Homo sapiens: one gene and its partners. The protein of the gene in region 3 purifies or fractionates together with the protein of the main gene of each other region. This does not show direct contact. Each region holds a gene or a part of one and is shown on either strand. Other genes may lie near its edges.

What was found.
Region 1: the proteins of PPIAL4G (region 3) and PCDHGA11 purify together in Homo sapiens (affinity purification with mass spectrometry; one large-scale study listed by BioGRID and IntAct). This does not show direct contact.
Region 2: the proteins of PPIAL4G (region 3) and EHD2 purify together in Homo sapiens (affinity purification with mass spectrometry; one large-scale study listed by BioGRID and IntAct). This does not show direct contact.

What each region holds. Positions count from the first base shown.
Region 1 is NC_000005.10:141,419,782-141,424,003, reverse strand, and holds the start of PCDHGA11 (protocadherin gamma-A11 isoform 1 precursor), read right to left. Parts: upstream 2,954-4,222; 5' UTR 2,777-2,953; coding exon 344-2,776; coding exon of another isoform or gene 263-343; exon of another isoform or gene 1-262. Other genes in the region: PCDHGB7 (protocadherin gamma-B7 isoform 1 precursor), read right to left, coding at 3,730-4,222. UniProt on the Homo sapiens protein: Potential calcium-dependent cell-adhesion protein. May be involved in the establishment and maintenance of specific neuronal connections in the brain.
Region 2 is NC_000019.10:47,723,351-47,727,003, reverse strand, and holds part of EHD2 (EH domain-containing protein 2), read right to left. Parts: intron 1,193-3,653; coding exon 780-1,192; intron 1-779. UniProt on the Homo sapiens protein: ATP- and membrane-binding protein that controls membrane reorganization/tubulation upon ATP hydrolysis. Plays a role in membrane trafficking between the plasma membrane and endosomes. Important for the internalization of GLUT4.
Region 3 is NC_000001.11:148,481,957-148,484,563, forward strand, and holds PPIAL4G (peptidyl-prolyl cis-trans isomerase A-like 4G), read right to left. Parts: upstream 1,347-2,607; 5' UTR 1,297-1,346; coding exon 802-1,296; 3' UTR 592-801; downstream 1-591. UniProt on the Homo sapiens protein: PPIases accelerate the folding of proteins. It catalyzes the cis-trans isomerization of proline imidic peptide bonds in oligopeptides.

The DNA of each region.
Region 1 (4,222 bases), on a different chromosome or scaffold from region 3:
ATCTATATATAATAAATTGAGAGCCTCATACACTGATAATAGAAAAATAATACTAAAATTCAACTTACTTCAAACCAAACCAGCATAGTTGAATGGCCCCTTTGAAATCAAAAGAAAATATGCCAAGATTGAAAAATGACTTTCACAAAAACGTTCTGAAAGATTATCGTAATCTCATGAAAGGCAAAGTAAAACTCACATGTATTGCTCTAAATATATATGAACTAAATATATGCCGCCCCACCCCCCCCCCAAACAGTTTTCATAACAGGCTCAAAAAACATCTCCTTAAAAGACTTGTGCCAAGACACCAACAATTAGGAGGCAGAGAAATAAATCTCACCTGATTACTTGTCGGGTCACATTTGCCTAAAATGATAGCTGAGTCTTCAGCTATCAAGAGTGGCTCGCTTTTCTCACAGCTCTCCTGGCTGATGAGCGTGTCCCCATAGTTGGGCTGGGGGAAAATCAGGTGACTCTTCTGCGAGTCCGCAATGAGAGAGACCTCGTGGGAATAGGTTTGCAGGAAAGCCTGTACCCCGTCCACGCCTACAAAATGTGACGTGGGCATACCTGCCAACCCGCCTTCAGAAGCCTGCAGCAGGCGTGACTTATGCCAGCGCCACAGCCTGAGTGCCAGCAGCACGATGACAAAGACCAGGAAGATGCAGGAGACTGCGGCCACCGCCACCACCAAGTACAGCGAGAGGTCTGAGGTTTCAGAGTTAGCCAGAGACTCGAGGCTGCCGAGGTCCGCCAGGACTTCGGGGATGCTGTCGGCCACAGCCACGGTGAGCGTGACGGTGGCCGAGAGAGGGGGCTGGCCGTGGTCCTGGACGGCCACCACGAGGCTCTGCTTGAGCGCGTCTCTGTCCAGCAGTGCCCGCGCTGTACGCACCTCGCCCGTGTGCTCCCCCACCGCGAAGAGTCCCGGCTCGCTGGCCTTAAGCAGGCGATAGGACAGCCAGGCGTTCTGGCCTGAATCTTTGTCCACCGCAACCACCTTGGTCACCAGGTAGCCAGGTTCCGCAGAGCGGGGCGCCAGCTCCACGCCAGTGGAGCCGTCTGTGGGGAGGGCAGGGTACAGGATCTCGGGCGCATTGTCGTTCTGGTCCAGCACGAACAGGCTCAGCGACACGTTGCTGCTGAGGGGCGGGTCCCCGCTGTCACGTGCTATCACTCTCAGTTCTAAGTCTCGAAACTGCTCATAGTCGAAGGATTGTAGGGCATAGAGAACACCAGTGTTGGAGTTAATAGAGACATAGGAGGACAGAGGCACCCCCTGGACAGTGTCATCCGTCAGAGAGTAAGTGACCAGGGCATTCTGTTTGCTGTCCGGGTCGAGGGCGGTCACTGAGAAGATGGAGGCACCCCTGGGGTTGTTTTCGGGAATGTAGGCAGAGTAAGAGGAGTGAGGAAAAACGGGAGGGTTATCGTTGTCATCTGCCACATTCAGCCAGACATGAGTTTCTGCAGACAAAGGCGGGCTTCCCTGGTCTGTGGCTGTCAACGTTATATTGTAGCTCTGGACCAACTCCCTGTCCAGCACTCTGCTTGTTATCAATTTGTAATAATTTCCATAAGTCTTTTCTAATTTAAAAGGCAGGTGGTTAGGAATAAAACAGGAGACTTGACCATTTTCTCCAGAATCTTGATCTTGCACATTTAGAAGAGCAATCACTGTACCTGGAGGAGAGTTTTCCAGAATTGAATTAATAGAAGAGGTGATAGTTATTTCTGGAGCGTTATCATTCACATCCACAACAGTGATCAACATCGTCGTGGTGGTAAAGAGACCTCCACCATCTTGGCCTTGAATTTCCATCTCATAGAATCTATATTTTTCAAAATCCAGAGACCCCCGTACTTGAACTTCTCCAGTTTGTGAATCCAATTGGAATATTTCAGAAGCCTTGCTTTCCATGTTCCGAAATGAATACATTACTTCCCCGTTGATTCCCTCGTCTGGATCCGTTGCATTAACCATCAGCACCCGAGTTCCGGAGCTGATGTTTTCTGGAACACTCACGCGATATACGGACTGTGTAAACATTGGGATGTGATCATTTACATCGAGGACCACCACACGAATGGGAACTGCGCCCTTTCGGATGGGATCGCCTCCATCTAAAGCTGTGAGGAGGAGCAGGTGAGCAGCCTCTTTCTCTCGGTCCAGGCTTCCCTCCAGTACTAGCTCTGGATTCTTGGCCCCATCCGTTCTGCCCCGCAGTTGCAAGGAAAAGTAATTATTAGGGCTGAGCTGGTAGCTCTGGAGGGAGTTCACGCCCACATCTGGATCCCTAGCATTAGGAAGAGCAAATCGCGCCCCAGGAATTGCGTGCTCACTGACTTTTATCTCCACTTCGTCCTCCTGGAAGCTGGGGGCGTTATCATTAATATCTATTATTTCCACCTCCACTCCGTAAATCTTCAAGGTGTCTTCCACGAGAAGTTCCATATTTAAAAAACAGGAGGACACCGTCTCACAGAGCTCCTCCCGGTCTATCCTGCCTGCCGTGATCAAGCTGCCGCTTCGCGGATTCACAGCGAAAAGCTGTGTCTTCCCTCTGGAGACGATGCGGACTCCGCGCTTCGCCAGCTCCCGGGGCTCCAGCCCCAGGTCCTTGGAGATATTGCCCACGAAGGAGCCCTTTTCGGTCTCTTCTGGCACCGAATATCGGATCTGCCTGGCCCGGAACCCCCGCAGCGTCCCCAGGAAAATGCACAGCAGCAGCAGCAGCCGACTGCGGTCCCCGCGCTGTAGCCGATTCGCCATGGCAGGCTCTAAGCCGATATTCCGCGGTTTCTCGAGCTGGTTGGTTGTGAATCGGCTTATGTATCTATGAAGTCCTAGGCCGACTACATCCAAAATATATCAGAAAGCGAAGGAAAATACTTCTAAGTCTCCAGTGTCAGGATCTGTGAGTATCCATCTCATTCCGCTTTGTGTGGTAGAGGCGGGGGAGGGAGGGACTCAATGGCGCGCAGCTTCCCATTCCCTGATTGGTGAGCAGCGGCGCCTAGAGCCCATTCTTATTATTGCAACGACTAAGAAATTCCAGAAGAAATGATTACGCTCACCTTTGTGAATCACACGTATTTGTAGAGCTTAAAAACGATGATACACAATACTTACATTATGTGACGTTAAAACTTTACCAAGAACACCTGCGAAAGGAGTAATTATTAAAAGGGCTTGCTTAATTTTTAAAAAGTTTTCAAAATATTACTGGAGCTGAAAACTTGTAGGTTGTAGTTGGTTCCAATTGATTTTAACCGACTGAAAGGAACGACATTTCTGGAAGTGGAAATAATACGGTCCCGATAAAATCATCAGGTAGGATGCCTAACTATAATTCTTACAAGGTTCCTTTATTGAGTAAATGAAGATGAAATACTTGAGAAAAATTGAGTAGCATCAGGGTTTCAATTAAAATACCATGCCGTAAAAATATACCTGTATTTTATATTTTTAACCGAAAGGTATTTTACTTCATAAAAATGTCACCGGAGATTACCCATGTAGTTTGCTTTAAAATGTCTTTGAATAGTAGGAAGACTGAGGCATTTAATTTAAACTTTTGTTTTAATAATGATAACCATAAATTTGACCTATATTTTGCGAACTCTATGAAGAAGTTATCTAGAATCTTAAAATAATACCACTATATTGGAATATATTGGCATATTGTAATATAAAAAGGATTAAATACATTTTTAAATACTTACCTGTTTAAGAATCTTCTTATCTGCTTCAACGCTGGGAGTTAAAATGCTAGCCAGTAGCATGCTATCTTTGTTGAGGTTATCTTGTGTGGCTGGACAATGATCAACAGATGTGAAAAAATTAAATTCTGGATTCATTTGATCCCCAGGCACACAAAAATTATAGGCATAGGGCAACGTTCCCTCACTGTAGTTGGGGGGACCCACAGGTCCGGACTTGGAGCAGAGAACTGACTCAAAGCAGTCTCCTGCAGTAGGGCTGAAAGACTGTCGCAGGCGTAGAGCAATAGCTAGAATCACCGCGAGGAGAAAGAGCACAGAAATCAAGGCCAAGGCCACCACCAGGTAAAACTGCATCTCAGCCTGGGAGTCAGAGGGTGTGGGATGGTCGCTGAAATCCGGCAGTACCTCTTGCAAGCTATCTGCGAACACCAGGTGCAGCGTGGCAGTGGCTGAAAGGGGTGGCTGTCCTCCATCTCTTACAGCGACTAGCAGG
Region 2 (3,653 bases), on a different chromosome or scaffold from region 3:
TGTCTGTCTATATTTTATAGGAAGTTCAAAAATTCAACATACTCATGCCTGCAATCCCAGCACTTTGGGAGGCCAAAAGGGGAGGATCACTTGAGGGCAGGAGTTCAAGACCAGCCTGGGCAACACAGTAAGACCTCGACTCTACAAAAAATAAAAAATTAGCTGGGCGTGGTGACACGTGCCTGTGGTCTCAGCTACTTGGGGCAGGCTAAGGAGGAAGGATCACTTGAGCCCAGGAGTTCAAGGCTGTGGTGAGCTGTGATTGCATCATTGCATTCCAGCCAGGGCAAGAGAGCGAGACTCCATCTCTTAAAAAAGAAGGAAGAAGAGGGAACGAAAGAGGATGTAAGGAAGGAGGAAGGGAGGAGGGAGGAAGGGAGAGAGGAACAGAGGAAGGAAGGAAGGAAGGAGGAAGGGGAGGAAGAAAGAGAAGAAGGAGGAGGAGGAGGGAGAAGAAGAGGAGGAGGAGGAAAGAGAGAAGAAAGAAGAAAAAGAGGAAGAAGAAGAAGAGAAGGAGGAGGAGGAGGAAGAGGAAGAAGAAATAGAAATACCAGGACAGAGAAGCCAGGGTGACACGGAGTTGACACAGAAATCCAAAGGCAGAGGAATGAGTCTCTCCATACAGTTCTTCCTCCCGGCTTCACTCTGTGCCAGAATGACCCAACTTCAAGAGAACTAACTAACCTGGGCCCTGATAAGTCAGGGACTCACAGCACTGGTAGGAGAGGACCGAGGAAACCTCCTCCAAGAATGCGCGCCCAGCCCTCAGGACTACTCACTCGCACCAGCCGGGCCCTCTTCACCAGGTCGTTGAGCTTGCGCAAGGCTGCGTGCCGGGGCAGGCCCTGGATGTCGCGGAAGAGGTCCTGCTCCTCCAGCTCGAAGAGGCGCCGGTTGTCGGGCACGAGGAGGGGCTGGGACCAGAAGGAGCCGATGTAGACGCGCAGCACCTCGGGCGTGCCCACCACCTTGCCCAGCGCCCACATGAGCGCGCCGTAGACGCGCATCAGCTGCTGCGTCTCCACCATGTCGGCCTTGTTGAGCACCACGCGGATCTTGTCCTCATGGCCCCGCAACGCGCCGATGGCCTCTGAGAACTCGTCCGAGATCTCCAGCTTGTGCGCATCAAAGAGCAGGATGATGAGGTCCACGCGCTCCGCGAACCAGCGCAGCACGGCCGGGAAGTCGTAGCCTGGAGTGGGAGTGGAGAGACAGGGGCGCAAGGGGCAGAAATCAGACCCCCACCCTCCAGCCATTCTCAGTAGTATCCCATTCTCTTGCATATTGGACTGTAAAGATGTTCACGTTGTTGGCTGTCCAAATCCTGTCTGGGCAAAATAGCCAAGGCCCTCAGTGGGCACTACTGCTCTGGCTCTCCAGTGCCCAGAATTTCCCCCCTCGCTCTGGCCCCAGCCCCTCAAGCCATCTGGCTACAGGGGGCAATCATCCCCCTTTTCCTTTGCTCGAGCACAATGGCGGGATCACGCCTCCCTGCAACCTCTGCTTCCCGGAGCTCAGGTGATCCTCCCACCTCAGCCTCCCTAGTAGCTGGGACTGCAGGCGCGCATCACCACACCTGGCTAATTTTTTTTTTTTTTTTTTTTTTTGAGTAGAGATGGGATCTCACTATGTTACCCGGGCTGCCGGGCTAGTCTCAAACTCCTGAGCTCAACTGATCCTCCTGCCTCAGCCTCCAAAATGTTGGGATTACAGGCGTGGGCCACCGCGCCCAGCCTCACGGCCTCCATTTTTTCATTTGCTCATTCATTAAGCAGTTATTACAGGTGTGCGTCGGTATGTACATATAGGTTGTTAAAAATACTGACATGTTTGCTAAGAGATCCCCCTGTGCTTCTATGGAACCCCCAAGCCTGCCACATGCCTCTATCACCCCAGCTCCTCCCCAGGACCTGTTGTATCTCCCCACGATCCAGCAACTAGAGTTCATGCTGGATAGCTGTGCTCTTGCCATAGCAGATGATAATTTTTTTTTTTTTTTTTTTTTTTTTTTTTTTTTTTTTTGAGACAGAGTCTCACTCTGTCGCCCAGGCTGGAGTGCAGTGGCATGAATGTGGCTCACTGCAACCTCCACCTCCACCTCCCAGGTTCAAGCAATTCTCCTGCCTCAGCCTCCCGAGTAGCTGGGATTACAGGCATGCACCACCACCCTGGCTAATTTCTGTATTTTTAGTAGAGACGGGGTTTCACCATGTTGGCCAGGCTGAGAAGTTAAATATTTTGCATTTATTTAGCAATACTTACTGAGAGTCTCATGTGTGCCAAGCCCTGTCCTGGGAGCCTGGGATACCGCAGAGAACACACAGACAAGATTCTTGCTCTTATGAAGCACCCATCCCAGCCATGGGTTCCCATGCTCATTCATTCATTCCTTTCACCATTCATTTCCTCATTCACTCCTTCATCCACTCATTCTCACCTTTGCTTCTTCACTCATTTATTCACCAACAAGCAATGCTGAGGAGAGCAGAGAGAAGCGATTGAGACCCCCTGACTTAGCTGTCTGGAAGACCTGGAGTTGAGTCCCTCCTCTGCCCCCATCCACTGTGTGACCTTAGGCAAGTAGCTTAACCTCTCTGAACTTGTGTTTTCTTTTCTGTAAAATGCAAATCATAGGACTGTTGTGAAGCCAGGTGTGATGGCTCAAACCTGTAATCCCAGCACTTTGGGAGGCTGAAGTGGGCAGATCAATTGAGGCCAGGAGTTCAAGACCAGCCTAGCCCTAAAAATACAAAAAAATTAGCCCGGTGTTGGTGGCTCATGCCTATGGTCCCACATATTCAGAAGGCTGAGGCACGAGAATCGCTTGAGCCTGGGAGGCAGAGGTTGCAGTGAGCCGAGATAGCATCACTGCACTCCAGTCTGGGCGACAGAGTGAGACTCTGTCTCAAAAAAAAAAAAAGACTGTTGTGAAGATTAAAAGAATATAAATGAGCTAATATATATAAAGAGCTTAAAATAATGCCTGGCATTGAACTGTACATTTAAAAATGATGGAAGTGGCCAGACAGAGTGGCTCACACCTGTAATCCCAGCACTTTGGGAGGTAGAGGCAGGAGGATCGCTTGAGCCTGGGAGTTTGAGACCAGCCTGGGCAAGATGACAAGACCCTGTCTCTACAGAAAAAAATAAAATAAAAAATTATCCACACATGTTGGCATGCATCTGTAGTCTCAGCTACTCAGGAGGAGGAAGCAAGAGGATCACTTGAGCCCAGCAGTTGGAGGCTGCAGTGAGCCATGATTGCGTCATTGCACTCCAGCCTGCAGACAGAGCAAGACCTTGTCTCTTTAAAAAAAAAAATGGTTGAGCTTTTTTTTTTTTTTTTTTTTCAGACGGAGTCTCGCTGTCGCCCAGGTTGGAGTGCAGTGGCGCGATCTCAGGTCACTGCAACCTCTGCCTCTCGAGTTCAAGCAATTCTCCTGCCTCAGCCTCCCGAGTAGCTGGGATTACAGGTGCCACCACACCCAGCTAATTTCTGTATTTTTAGTAGAGATGGGTTTTCACCATGTTGGCCAGGATGGTCTCCATCTCTTGACCTCATTATCCGCCCACCTCAGCCTCCCAAAGTGCTGAGATTACAGGCATGAGCCACTGAGCCCGGCCATAATGGTTGAGTTTTTATGGCGTGTACG
Region 3 (2,607 bases):
TCAATAAGCCCTGTTTTAAAAAGAGGGATAAATGGAGAGGAAAGAAGGAAAGTTGTTAAGATACATAAGTATGCACAGGACAATACAAGAGAAACAATGTGTTTGGATGTCAAGGCTCTCCTTTCTGCAAGTGGCCAGCAGGTCACTATTGGCATCTATGGCCATGTGCCCTCAGCTAACACCTCTGCTAGTCAGGGTTTTGCCTTGTGAGATGACCAAATATTCATTCCTGACAGAGAAATGTCCTTGATAATCTTTTTGTGTGAGCGTGCCATGGTCATTGTTAATTTCTTTCATTTAACAAAATAATAGACTTTATTTTTTGAGCAGTTTTAGCTTTATGGAAAGATCGAGCAGAAAGTACAGAGTTCTCACATACTGTCACCTTTATCCCACCCCCAGTTTACATTAGGGTTCACTCTTTGTGTGGTACAGGTCTAGGAGTTTTGCAAAACGCATAATGTCATGTACCCATCATTACATTATTACCAACGTATTTTCAATCCCCTAAAAATCGCCTGTTTCAGAACTATTTATCTCCCTACCCATCCCCAAACTCCTGGCAACCACTGAGCTTTTTTGTTGTTGTTGTTGTTACTTAGTTTTTATTTCATAATCATAAACTTAACTCTGCAATCCAGCTAGGCATGGAAGGGAACAAGGAAAACATGGAACCCAAAGGGAACTGCAGCAAGAGCACAAAGATTCTAGGATATTGCAAGCAAATGTGGTGGAGGGGTGCTCTCCTGAGCTACAGAAGGAATGGGTCTGGTGGTGAAAATAAAACACAAGTCAAACTCATTAGAATTGTCCACAGTCAGCAATGGTGATCTTCTTGCTGGTCTTGCTATTCCTGTACCCAAAGTGCTCCATGGCTTCCACAATATTCACACGTTCTTTCACCTTGCCAAAGGCCACATGCTTGCCATCCAACCACTCAGTCTTGGCAGTGCAGATGAAAAACTGGGAACCATTTGTGTTGGGTCCAGCATTTGCCATGGACAAGATGCCAGAACCTGTATGCTTTCGGATGAGGTTCTCATCATCAAATTTCTCCCCATAGATGGACTTGTCACCGGTGCCATTAGGGTGTGTGAAGTCACCACCCTGACACATAAACCCTGGAATAATTCTGTGAAAGCAGGAACCCTTATAACGAAATCCTTTCTCTCCAGTGCTCAGAGCACGAAAGTTTTCTGCTGTCTTTGGAATCTTGTCTGCAAACTGTTTGATGGAGATGCGGCCCAAGGGCTTGCCGTCGACGGTGATGTCAAAAAAGATGACGGAGTTGACCATGGCTGATAGTACAGGGCTCACAGCGATGGCGGCGTCTGCAAAGATAACCACTGATCTTTTTACTGTCTTTATAGTTTGGCCTTTTCTAGAATGTCGTATAGTTGAAATCACAGTATGTACCCTTTTCAGACTGGCTTCTTTCACTTAGCAAAATGTCTTTGTTTTTTCTGTATCTTTTTGTGGCTTGATAGTTTTTTCCTTTTAGCACTGAATAATATTCCACTGTAGGAATATACCACAGTTTGCTTATGCAGTCACTCATTGAAGGACATCTTGGTTGCTTCCAAGTTGTGGCAGTCTTCATTTCTTTCTTTCTTTCTTTCTTTCTTTCTTTCTTTCTTTCTTTCTTTCTTTCTTTCTTCTTTTTTTTTTTTTTTTTTTTTGAGACAGAGTCTTGCTCTGTCACCCAGGCTGGAGTGAAGTGGCACAATCTCAGCTCATTGCAACCTCTGCCTCCCAGGTTCAAGTGATTCTCTTCCTCAGCCTCTGGAGTAGCTGGGATTACAGGTGTGCACCACCACGCCTGGTTAGTCTTCAGGAATATTTACAGGACTGTATAGAATTAGGAGCCATCAAAGGGGATCCCTGAATTCTTTCTGTTTTTCTTACAAATACCAGTTTTAAGGTCAAGATTTACTACCCCATGCAACAGTGTAGCCGCATTTTAAATTTTAAATTTTTGACTGTTTCTTTAAAGGTCTCAGGCAACCTAAAAGGCTAGATAGAAGTCTCTCATCCTCTAACGAAGGATGGATTGTAAAATGGAATACTGCTAAGACTCTCCCTTTGGGTACTAATTCTGCAAAAACCTAGAATCTCAGAGACAAGAGATAAGTATTTGGAGTGGATCATTAGATGTAATGACAAAAGGAGTCACTTCAACATTCATAACAAATATCAAAGATTGTTGTATTTTTTATATGGGAGACACCAGACAAGCTTATACTTAGTTACTAGTTCAGAGGATACACCACCACATCCTCTAGCATGAGTACAACCTTATAAGCCATTGTCTCCAGCTGGCACTGTGATTGAGTCTTTAATAAAATATTCACCATTCTATAATAATAATAATTTTGGTTAGTGATAGGATAAATGGTGGACCAGGTGAGTCCAATGAATATCTACTCATTTGTTATACAACAAGTTCTTTTAATAGAAGGATGTAGAACAGGATATTATGGCAGTATATATAAGGCATTCAATGTACCCGTGGAGAGTGGCGATCAGAGAAAAATGATGTCAGGTAAAGCAAATGTAATTCAAGGATAAAGGTAGATTCCATTTACAAAATTCCTTGTTGCCTTTATC